2 separate regions of the Homo sapiens genome follow, and region 1 is linked to region 2. Evidence: fine-mapped expression QTL. A gene starts in region 2. The other region holds a variant in brackets. All regions are shown on one strand. Distances are between the middles of the regions.

Region 1 (5,329 bases), 64 kb after region 2:
GGCTCAGAGGGCCCCGGGCCTCGCTGACTGACATGCTAGACGGTGGCCTCGGCAGGCTGCACACAGAGGGCAACGTGTCAGGGCTGGGGGACGGGGAGCTGGGTGCACGGATGAGTAGGTTTGACAGGGGTCCCATGGTGCTCTGAGAGCAGAGGAGGCTGGCAGCGGACATCCACCAGCAGGAAGATGCAGACACCAGTGCTAGGGGCAGAGGGATGTATTTATGAAATAGCATTTTCAGTTTTAAATTGTAAAAATAGATGTGTGAAGCTCTTTTCGTTTCTTTTTAAACAAAGAACAAAGTTGGTGTTTTTTTAATTTGTATGGTTGCCCGGGGTGGGGCATGTGTGTGCTTTTTGACTAAATCTATCCCCGTCGTGTGTGAGGGGCTTGCTTTGTACTCTTTTTGATGGATGCTAACACTGTACTGTTATTTATAACGTTTTATAGTTTGGGGTAACTTTTCTGTTTTGGGCACATAGCATCACAAGCTCCCAGATTCCAGATCCCAACAGAGCATCTGGTCCACCCACTGTTCCCCAACACAATGATACTAAAAGACCCTGAGAGTCTACGCATTTGTCCCCTTTCTCTGACCTAAAAAAGGGAGGTGCCACAACTTACAGTTTTTCTGTATGTCTCACTTAACCCCCCACACCCATCAGACAGAAGGGTGTTCACTCTCTTCCTATCCTGGGTGGAAGTCAAGGACAGTGCAGTAACTATGAAACAGTACTTCGTATACTGAAAATTGCTTTTGAAATCTCTCCTCAGCATCTGCCCGTCCCGGCCCAAACTCCTCACTCCCTTACGCTGTGTCTGCCCTGGGACCGTCTCTGGATTTCTGCTCTGATGGTGCTGTGGTTTTGCAGCTCACTCTCAGCTGCACCCACGCCCCCGGGGAGGGGAGGGTCTGTCTGGTGCCTCACTGCTGTAGTCTCTGCTTCTCCGAGCACGGCCTGGGCTCTGGCTGGACCCTGCTTGAACCCCGCCCTCACTTTTATATGACGGCTCTTATAAGAGCCTGCCCCCATAGTGAGGCGGTGTGCAGGCTTCTGGGGCCTGAGTGCCGTAGAGCGTCCTTCGCCTTGTTTCCCCTCAGCCATCCTTATCCTTCCCTCTTACCCGTGTCTGCGCTGTCGCCTGGTGTCCCGGGTCTACCCTCAGTGCACCCCCAGAAGCCGAGCTCTCCTCTGCAGCCCTCCTCACCACCACCAGCTCCCCTGCTTCCGCCTGGCTGCTCCCCAGGGCAGTGTCCTCACCTCTGCCCCCTGCAGTCTGCTCCCAGCATGGCAGCCCGAGCAGCCCACTCCTCAGGTCAGCCGACTGTCATTTTGCAGCCCGCTCCGGGCACTAGGGCCTGTGCACCTGCCGGTCCCTCTGCCAGCGAGCTGTGTAAACACCTCCTGTGAGCCCCTGTTCAGTGTGGCCCCACCTGTCTCTCCTGCCACACGCCCTGTCTTCTTTGTTCTGCTCTGCTTTCCCTTCTCCATATCTTTTGGCACCTGTGAATAGCCTATACTGTTCACTTATTTTTTCCCCTCTGTGGCATTGCATACTTTTCCCCCGTTAGGGTGCACGCTCTCATGACAGCAGGAATCCTGGGGTTTTTTGTTGTTGTTGTCAGTGCGTTCGAATGCCTAGATCAGTGTCTGGCATGTAGTAGGTGCTCAGTAAATACAGCATCCATGCAGGGGGCCCACCTTTCTCTCTTCCTCTCTCCACTTTGCTCTCCCGTCAAGCTGGGGCCCCTGACAGGTGTTACCCACTTGCTCTCATAGATAAGAAGGCCAGTTGTCAGTGGTCAGGGTCAAGTGAGATTCATTCTCTGCCCAGTACCACGTGTCTGTCTCCCCTAGGCCTGAGATGACTCCCTGAAAACCGCCTTCACCATCTTGCCAGCTGCACAGCTATTAAATATCTTTCGCGGTTACTGGTGAGTGTTTTCTACAAGAAGCCTGTGAGAAGCAAGAGCTCACGTCTGTGCTGTGAGGGAGGATGCTGGATGGAGCTAGACCAGCTCCGGGGTCCCTCCAGCTCTGGCTTCTCAGCATCTTGCTCAGCAGCCAGGCCTGTCACTGTGCCACACGCACAAGAAAAGACTAGATTTGTCTGACGGGAAGCCAGGGTGTTAGCAAATTACTTTCTGCGATGAATCACAGGACAGTTGCACTGGAAGAAAGCATTGTTTTTTCTTCCAGGGTTTGTATCCAAGTATAGTAGTGGTTTCCAGACTTACACATGGCCGATCCCACCGAAGCCATTTAGAATGGAAGGGAACGAGCCATTTAGGTGTAGAAGCCCAGCCCAGAGAGCGGAGGAGCTCATTCAGAGGCACACAGCATGGAGGTCCCCATAGGCGCAAGAC[A/G]GATTTCACACCATAAATTGCACAGATGGTTACTTTTGTGGACAGTAAGCCACTGGTTCCAAGCAAGAGGGTTACTGTCACTGGTCTGCCCTGATGTTTCTTACATTCTAAATGCCAAGCAGGATTCCTGGAAGCCCTGGAGGGGCTGCGACTGCATATGCACACCCTACAGGGTCCTGTCTGAATGCCCCTGGAACCTTTGAGAAGAGCCTTGGGGTTTCATTAATTGCCGTTCAGCGGCCTGGCCCTCTGTCCTATGTTTTCTCTCTCTTATGATGGTTACAGAGGGTGCGCATTCCAGCAGCAGAGGAAGCACCCTGAAGAGACAAGGTTCTGTGCGCACAAAATGCTGTGACCGACCTTCCTTCTCAGCTGAGTGCAGAACTCTATCTACTGCACCGGCTGAGGAAGCCAGAAGGCCCGACTTCTGACCTCCCCAAATAAAAGACTGGAGTACCTTTTCATCCTTCCTCATCTTAGCTGGCTGCCCCTCAGCCAGAGGCTCACAAAAGGAGCTCAGCCCAAGCCCCTCCTTTAGCTCCCCTCTGCTGGTGAGATGAACAGGCCGCCTCTGCTCAGGAAGCCCCCAGTCTGGGTTGAGGCAGGAAGGGAAGACAGAGTCCTGCGACATTTATTCTAGGACAGAAGATGGTGCAAGAATGTGCTTCACAGCCAGTGCAAGGGGGCTGATGAGTTCTGCTTGGGCAGGCCAGGAAGGCTTCCTGGAGGAGGCAATATCTGGGCAAGCCACGGACAGAGAAAGCGAGGAAAGGTGTTCTAGGTGGAACGAGCTCAGGGGAGTGCAAGTTGCTGGAAGTCTCATGAGGATCAGCAAGCCTGGGGCAAGGAGGAGGCCTTCTGTGACAGCTGAGGTTTAGGATTCATGGGCCAGAGGAAACAGACCTCCTGAAACTCCTTGGAATTTAATATTTAACCCTCTCAGTATTGATTTGCTCTCCTGCCAGTGTGTCCTTGGAGTGCTTTTCAGATCCCATGGAAACCTCTCTCTCGTAGCCCACACGGCACAGCCCTGCCTTCCTTCGGGGGCCCCGGGGAACTTGTGAGGGCTGGGTGTGCCCCAGGCTTACTGACCTCCATCCTGGCAACCCAGGCACAGGCTCAGAGTCCGGCTTGTGAGGAACAGTCCTCCTGCTGCAGAGATGGTGCTTTTAAAAATCAAAAGCCCTGTCTTCCTGGCCCTGCGGCCCTCCCAGTCCTGCCCCTGGCTCCATGCCTGCTCACCGTGTGGTGTGGAGGCTGAGGGTCGGCCACTCAGGCTTCATGAGCCATTCTTGTGTTCTTTTCCCCTACCCCTGTTGTTTTTATTTTATTTCTCCTGGCCATAATTCTCTAATCCTGTGTATAAGTGTATATGTGTGTGTGTATATATATATAATTTTCATATTTGCAAAACGTTTTGGGCGTTTGAATGGGAGGGAAGAAATAAGAAAAAGCTAATCTTGCAGGCATTTTGATTGTTCTAAAATTTCCTCTTTCATCCTTGAGAGAGAAGGTTCAGAAAAGCAACCAAATGCTGTTTTAAACTACCCCGTTTCTATCCTGCTTCTTTGCTTCTGTGCTGCTTGTTGGATCCGGAAATGAGGGCTCCAGTCCACGTGCGGTGCTGGGGCACTTAAGCCAGGAGCCGAGGCTTTCCTTTCCTAGGAAGGTGCAGAGTTTGGCTGACACCAAGCCCAGCCGAGCGTCACAGTGCGGCCCACACGCCGGCCTCCAAGCACCCGCGGATCTGCCTGGAGACCAGACTTTGTTAGTAAACTTCCTAGCGATGGCCCAGGCACACAGAGAACGCCGCTGGCTGCAACAGCCACACCATGGCTTCCAGCAGCCCTACTCTCTGTGGCCACCGCCGTCTGCGGAGGAGGGAAGAGATGCTATTTGTCAAAGGTCTTTATGTTTGAGTTTTCCACGTGGTGGTTGGGAGGGACCCTTTCCCAGAGCGTCCCCTGCCTGCCCTAGCTCCTCGCCCCTTCCCAGGGCAAACTTGAGTCTCAAGCTGCAGGCTTGTGGCTGATTCTGCTTTTCTGGTCTTCAGTTGTTTGGTGCTGGGAAATGAATTCGCTCTCAGCTTCTGCAGGCGTGGCAGGCAGGTGGGGTAGGAGGTCATTTTTGGGGTGAGGGTGCTCCGAGGGGCTGATATTTCAAAGTGTTCTACATGACCTGGGGGTAGCTGTCGTCTGTTGTGCGTGGTGGTGCTGGGGTATCTGTGGGGGTGGGACTGACTTGACATGGGCAGCAGAGAGACACTAGAGTAAAGGGCCACTAGTCAGAGTGCCCCCGGGAGGCTCCTGCACCATTCCACACAGGCATGCAGCTTAGCGCCTGCCAGAGTCCACGTTTGATAAATATGTGTGCCTGGTTATGTTAATGCCGGGGGGTGGGGGCACGTGGTGACATGAGGATTCCACAGGGGCCGCTCCCCAGAATGTGAGCCCGTGCGTAGAGGTGCCTGCCTCCTTCCCCATGGGTGGGGACACATATGATGGAGCATCCCCATGTGCCCACCCACGGGGAACTCTCCACCTTGAGTATTCCTCGGCAGTGCCTAGGAAGTACCCCAACTGTTAAAATAATAATAAACAGCTCTTCTCGTTGTAAGCTGAGCCCTCAGGAGGGCCCTCAGAGCCGTGCCCATGTGAGTGAGTGTTGGGGTGTGCCCGTGTACTGAGGAGAGACAACAGGGTCGTGTTCAGTGCACTGCTGTTTTCAAATCACTGTGACAGCCTCGTGAGCATCCTTATGAAATAACTGGTTTTTAAGTACAAAACCAGGGAAAGCAGTTAGTGGTTCACACCAGCATGTAAGCCAGAAGAGAAGAGAATGTAGAATAAGTAAGCACACATACGTGCCGTAGAAGAGAGAAACTGAAACTGCTCTCTTTGCGGTTCTAACCCAGGTACTTGATGCTAACAGTTAACCTCACTCAGTCAGCAAACGCTGGTT
Region 2 (5,314 bases):
GAGCACGCCACTGCACTCCAGCCTGGGCAACAGAGTGAGACTCTGTTGTCTCAAAAAAAAAAAAAAAAAAAAAAAAGAGAAAAGAAAAAAAGATTTTTATTTCAGATAAAATTAATATTTCCATAATTAGGATACACACATAATTAGCAAACACACATTCTTGAGTCCATTATTTAAGGTTTATTCTATAAACGACTTCCATGAGTATTAGAGATCCTGAATGTCATCTGAATATTTGTCTACACACTTGTGGGCAGCTTCTGTAGACTTTTCTTTGTAGAAATTCCAGTTTTTCTGAATTCTTCCTTTTCCTTCAGGTTTTCCACTTTGCATTATTCATAAAAGGCTGGGTCATTATAGTGAGCTGTTAAGACATTCTTTCAATGCAGAATTTTCTTTCCAGCATTTTACTACCATAAGGATTCCAGAGTTCTTGCAACATTTGGTAAAATCTTGAACTTGTCAGAAGACCTCTCTCTGGCCTTTTCTCTCATTATTTTAGGGATCAAAACATCTTTTTCGACACGTCTGAGCTGCTGCTCCAAAAACCTGTAGTGTCTTCCCATTGTTTTTGGTATAAAAATCAAACTCCTTGAAATGGTTTACAGGACATTTCATGATTCACAACTGAAACTCCTCCACAGCGATGGCACACACTCCTCTTTGATCTCAATTCTTCTTTCTTGTGGTCTTTGCTTAAACCACTGTTCTTTAAATTTCACAGAGCAACCATCAGAGTTGTTAAATTAATCCGCGGGGTCGAGTGCCATCGCGGCGGGCGGAGAAGCAATTAAGGAACTTCTCTAATGAACTTCTGGTGCACAACAAAACCATGTAGTCTCGAAATTTTAGTTCCTCCGCAGTCCCCCATTGTGTTTTATGCTACCCCGCCTTCCACAGTCTCTAGGGACCCCTAACCGACCCCCTTGGCTCTCAGGCCATAATCTCACAACCCTCCCCAGCCCAACGGGGTCCGCCAGCGCTGGGCTGTAATACCACTCGCCACCAGCAGATGCCGCAGCCCCAACGCTGCACAGAGCCAACTTTCAAAATTACCACCGAGCCTGTCGGCAGCCATTTAGTGCCTGCTGTATACTTGCCAAGCGCCACGCAGGGCCCTTCGGGTCAACCCTGTACCAGTTGGCCCAGCTGCGAAATGCGGCGATCGTTAGGGTTAAATTAGTAAAATGGTCTACAGTGCTTTGAACAATGACCGGCTGGTGGTGTGAAATTATTACCAGGCCGAGACCAGCCTGGAGCCGGCTCCTGCCTCGTGCCGTCCCGCAAGGAGGTCCTGCCCCCGGGCTTGCCTTCCAGCCAGTTGGGGCCTTTGCCCTTTTTCCTGTCGCCTGCCACTAAGCTGCTGCTAGGAACCCCGGCTGGAATTTAGCTCGCCTCCGGCAAAGTGGTGGGGGCGGGCCCGGGTCGGGGAGGCCACATCACCTGCTTCCTGCAGGAACTTTTAGAAGGCAGGCAGCCCGGAACATGGCACGGTGGGGCACGGTAGGGCGCGAGGGGCCGCGCCCCTAAGGCCTAAACTCAACATAAAGTTTCTTCTTTGCCCTCCAGCCCAGCCCCAGGGTCGGGGCGCGTTTATCGCGCCGCGCACAAGCGTGAGGAGCGGGGGTTTGCGGGGCCTCTTGACTGTACCTGGGGCTGCACCTGCCAGGAGTGCGGAAAGGCGCAGGGCCGAGGTCCCCAAGCCCAGAGCGGGCGGCAGCTGCGGGCGACCTCGGAGGGCAGAGCAACCTCGGAGGGCAGGGCGTCCCCGCTCCCGGCACGCACCAGTGCCCGCGCACCCCAGCTCGCACGTGGCGCTCGGGCCCCGGCTGCACGCGCACGCGCGCAGGGATGCGCCACGTGCTGGGGCCCCACACGCGGGGAGGCTGCGCTCGGCGAGGGCGCGCGGTCCCACGGGCGGGGAGCCGGGCCCCGCGACCCACCCGCCTCGGGCCACCAGTCCCCTCCCAGCGCCCCGCGTAGCCTGGTCCCGCGCCCGGGCTCCCGGGCTCCCGGGCTGGCACCGCGAGGCGGCGCGCCGGTCGCCCAGGGCCGCCGAGGGGCGGGGCCGCCCGTATTGTTCCTCCCCGAGCGGCTGGCCCTCCCCTTCCCCCAGACCCGGGCGGGGCGCGGGGCCGCCGAAGCCGCGGAACGTGGGCTCGCGCGCCCCGCCTTTGTCTCCCGGGCGCGAGCCGCCGCAGCCCCGCGCCCGCTGCTCGCTGCGGAGCCGTTTTGTGCCGCGGCGCGGGGGAACGGGGACGCGGGGCGGGGGGCGCGGAGCCGGCGGGCGCAGCCTCAGCATGGACGTGACAGTCTCGGAGCTCCTGGAGCTCTTCCTGCAGAGCCCGCTGGTGACCTGGGTGAGTGCGCCTGGCTCCCCGCCCCTTTGTTGGTGCACCGGCTTCTCTCTAGCCCGGCGACGGGACGCCGCAGACCCGACACGGCCGGGGCCCCGGGTGGCTCCGGGGCGCGAGGGACGCAGCAAGTGGCTCCCGGCCGGGGTTGGGGCCGCGTCCTGGAGTCCGGAGCTTTGTAACTCTGGAGCCGGCGCCCCCGTTGTGCGTCCGGCGCGGGACCCCGCCGCGCTTTCGGCCGGGCCAGGAGCCGGGCGGGTACACCTGTTCCCGCTGGGGCTCTAGGCTGGCTGCCTCGGGGCGGACCGGGTCCCAGTGGTCACTCCTGTCCCTGGGGTTTAGCCACTCCCGAAAAGGACCCCATTCTTCCCAACCAAATATCTCATGTAGTTTTTCTGAATCCCTGAGACCAGCCGGTGGATGGCGGTGACGGGTGGGGAATGGGGGGCGCCGAATGGGAAAGCGAACAGACTGGGGTGGGCGCACTGATTTACAATGGATTTGAGACGTGAGACATTTATTGAAAAGTCCTTTTTATTTTTATTTCTTCCGCTCTGGAACGCGGGAGAAAAGTGGCGAGGAAGTTTTTCCTCCTGTCTCGTGTCTGTTGCCCCGCGCGGGGAGGGGAGACAGGCCCTAGGAGAAGGCCGGGCTTGGTGCCTGCTGAAGGGTGGTGTGGGCGTGGGTGACCCCCTTCTGCTCACACTGACCCGTCCAGTCTCTGCCTGGGAGAGCTTTGGACCGTTTGTGCGCACGGGGTGACTTCCTGTCTTTCTCTCCTCGTCCCCCTCCCCGCAGGTGAAAACTTTTGGCCCGTTTGGAAGCGGCAGCCAGGACAACCTGACTATGTACATGGATTTAGTGGACGGCATCTTTTTGAACCAAATTATGCTGCAAATGTAAGTTACCTTCTTCTCGGAGGAAGGAAAGAATGGTGCGTTAGAAAGTTTGAGAGTAGAAATGGAGTGGAAGGTTGCATGGCGGGGTGTGTGTGGGGTGGGGGGTAGTTCTCTGAAGGTGGAGACGCTGGTATCTCAGTATTAACGTGCCTGTTGGACATTCGTAGGTGTTTGAAGAACTCCAGGACAGTGGGTCTGGCAGTTGGTTTGATGAAGGAAATTTGGAATTGAATGACTGTCATTTACGTGGTGTAGATAGTGCAATTGACTTCAGACTCAAGGACTTAATTGTGGTTTGAGCAATGAAATGAAAAAGTCCCCTTTTGGAGGGCAAGGAACTGTAACGGAGAGTGTCTGGTTACAGGAAGTGTCGGGGTGGGCCCAGGCATCCGAGGGTTACTGTAAAGTTTCATTTTAGATGAGGGTGTCTGTGTTTCTGAGCTCCTTTACATTTCATCTTCCTTTTTCAGTTGCCCCAAAGCAAGTGCAATTCATTAAGTCCTACTGTATGGACTGAGTTTAAAGTCACAGTGTTAGGAGGGTCCCATGGTGCTGTTTGTTTGGAAGCATGCAGCCTGAACAGGGTCTTAGTAGAAGTTACTCTTGCCAGCGAGTACATCTGACCACATCCTTTCCTGTTGCTGAGCTCTGCACGGCCTGATTGACAGCTTGCCACAACGTAGGTGTTGGCTTCTACCTTTGCATTCTGTTTTTAACTCAAACTGCAGGGAACATTGGAACTGAGTGTCGGGATGATTCACAGGCACTTGAAGCAAAATAAAACATCCTAATGTTCTCTGTGGATCAGCCTCGTGTGCGCACCTATTCACCTACGACTGAGCAAGTTGTCATACTGGAGCATAAATCTATTAGCTAATGAGAGATCAGCTTCGTTTGTGGCTCACAAAGGCAGAGGAGCAGTTTGCTTTGGCATATCCAGAAAGTGGCTTATATAGATTGCCTTAAACAGCCTGTTTAGAAAAAAATAATTCAAGAACCTTGCTTTTTTTTTTTTTGGAGACGGAGTTTCGCTCTTGTTGCCCAGGCTGGAGTGCAATGGCGTGATCTCAGCTCACCACAACCTCCGCCTCCCGGGTTCAAGCGATTATCCTACCTCAGCCTCCCGAGTAGCTGGGATTGCAGGCATGCGCCACCACGCCCGGCTAATTTTGTATTTTTAGTAGAAATGGGGTTTCTCCATGTTAGGCTGGTCTCGAACTCCCGACCTCAGGTGATCCGCCTGCCTTGGCCTCCCAAAGTGCTGGGATTACAGGCATGAGCCACTGTGGTGCCCGGCCTCCTTTTATTTTAATAAGTCATTTGATGTCATGCTGTTTAATGGTTTTTGCTTTTTTTTTTTTAAAGTTCACAGCTGTGGGTGTAGGAAAAAAAGTCACTACCAATCTTACCAGTCTTCAGTGTCTGATTAGATTGAAAAACATAAATCTGTTGCCAGCTTTGACAGCACTTCTTAGATAACTTTGTTGAAACTGAGTTTTCCGGAAGCTGTCTCGTGGCATATTCGAGTTCTGGCCACTCTCCCCTCATTCTGTTAGACCCTGAAAATTACTGGATTCCATTGGCGCAATGACCGGTGAAACTTCAACCTGTCCTTACCCAAGCCCAAGACTGTTTAATTAAAAAAACCAGCAGTATCCCCAGCCTTTTCATTCAGCTCCTACACCCAGGCAGAGGGGGGAACAAAAGCACTGGGACTGTTTCTCTTTCTTCCCTGACCTTTGGAATTCCTGAAGCGTTTCCCACTTGCTTGTAAATCAGGAAAGCCTGTTGGACCGTTCCTTTGAGAAACGCCAGCTCATCACTTGTTCTCATTTGGCCCATGGCTAAATTCGGCCGGGGTGGTGTGGGGTGGGAGGGTTTCTCCCCTTCCCTGGGCAATTTTAGATGTTCTCTCTGTGATATGCCAAGGTAATCATTCCAGAAGTGGGAACTGGTAAATTGTAGCTCTTAAGACTTCAAGAAGTGCTTCTGGGTCCCTCAGGATGAGTTGGGCACAGAGGAATGGAGCGTGGGGAGGCTGAATGGCTGGCTTTCCAGAAT

Evidence for each region. PIP is the estimated chance that this variant, and not a neighbour inherited with it, causes the effect.
Region 1: its variant is the best candidate, but not a certain one, in a credible set for the expression of CCDC88C in atrial appendage (GTEx, PIP 0.72).

What each region holds. Positions count from the first base shown.
Region 1 is chr14:91,351,068-91,356,396 of GRCh38, reverse strand. The region is part of intron 4 of CCDC88C (coiled-coil domain containing 88C); the gene reads left to right. Among named protein-coding and RNA genes, the nearest start is that of CCDC88C, 64 kb to the left of the region's middle. RefSeq lists enhancers at 989-1,499, 2,961-3,932. The variant A/G (reference allele first, on the strand shown) is at 2,369.
Region 2 is chr14:91,414,677-91,419,990 of GRCh38, reverse strand. It overlaps CCDC88C (coiled-coil domain containing 88C), which reads left to right and starts at 2,171. Exons shown (of 30, transcript NM_001080414.4): 1 at 2,171-2,360; 2 at 3,153-3,253. The coding sequence starts at 2,301. CCDC88C-DT (CCDC88C divergent transcript) reads right to left here and starts at 1,745. Exons shown (of 3, transcript NR_184261.1): 1 at 1,651-1,745. It also overlaps the pseudogene LOC112268126. RefSeq lists enhancers at 756-805, 1,046-1,690, 3,296-3,585, 3,596-3,725, 4,116-4,245 and a silencer at 1,756-2,675.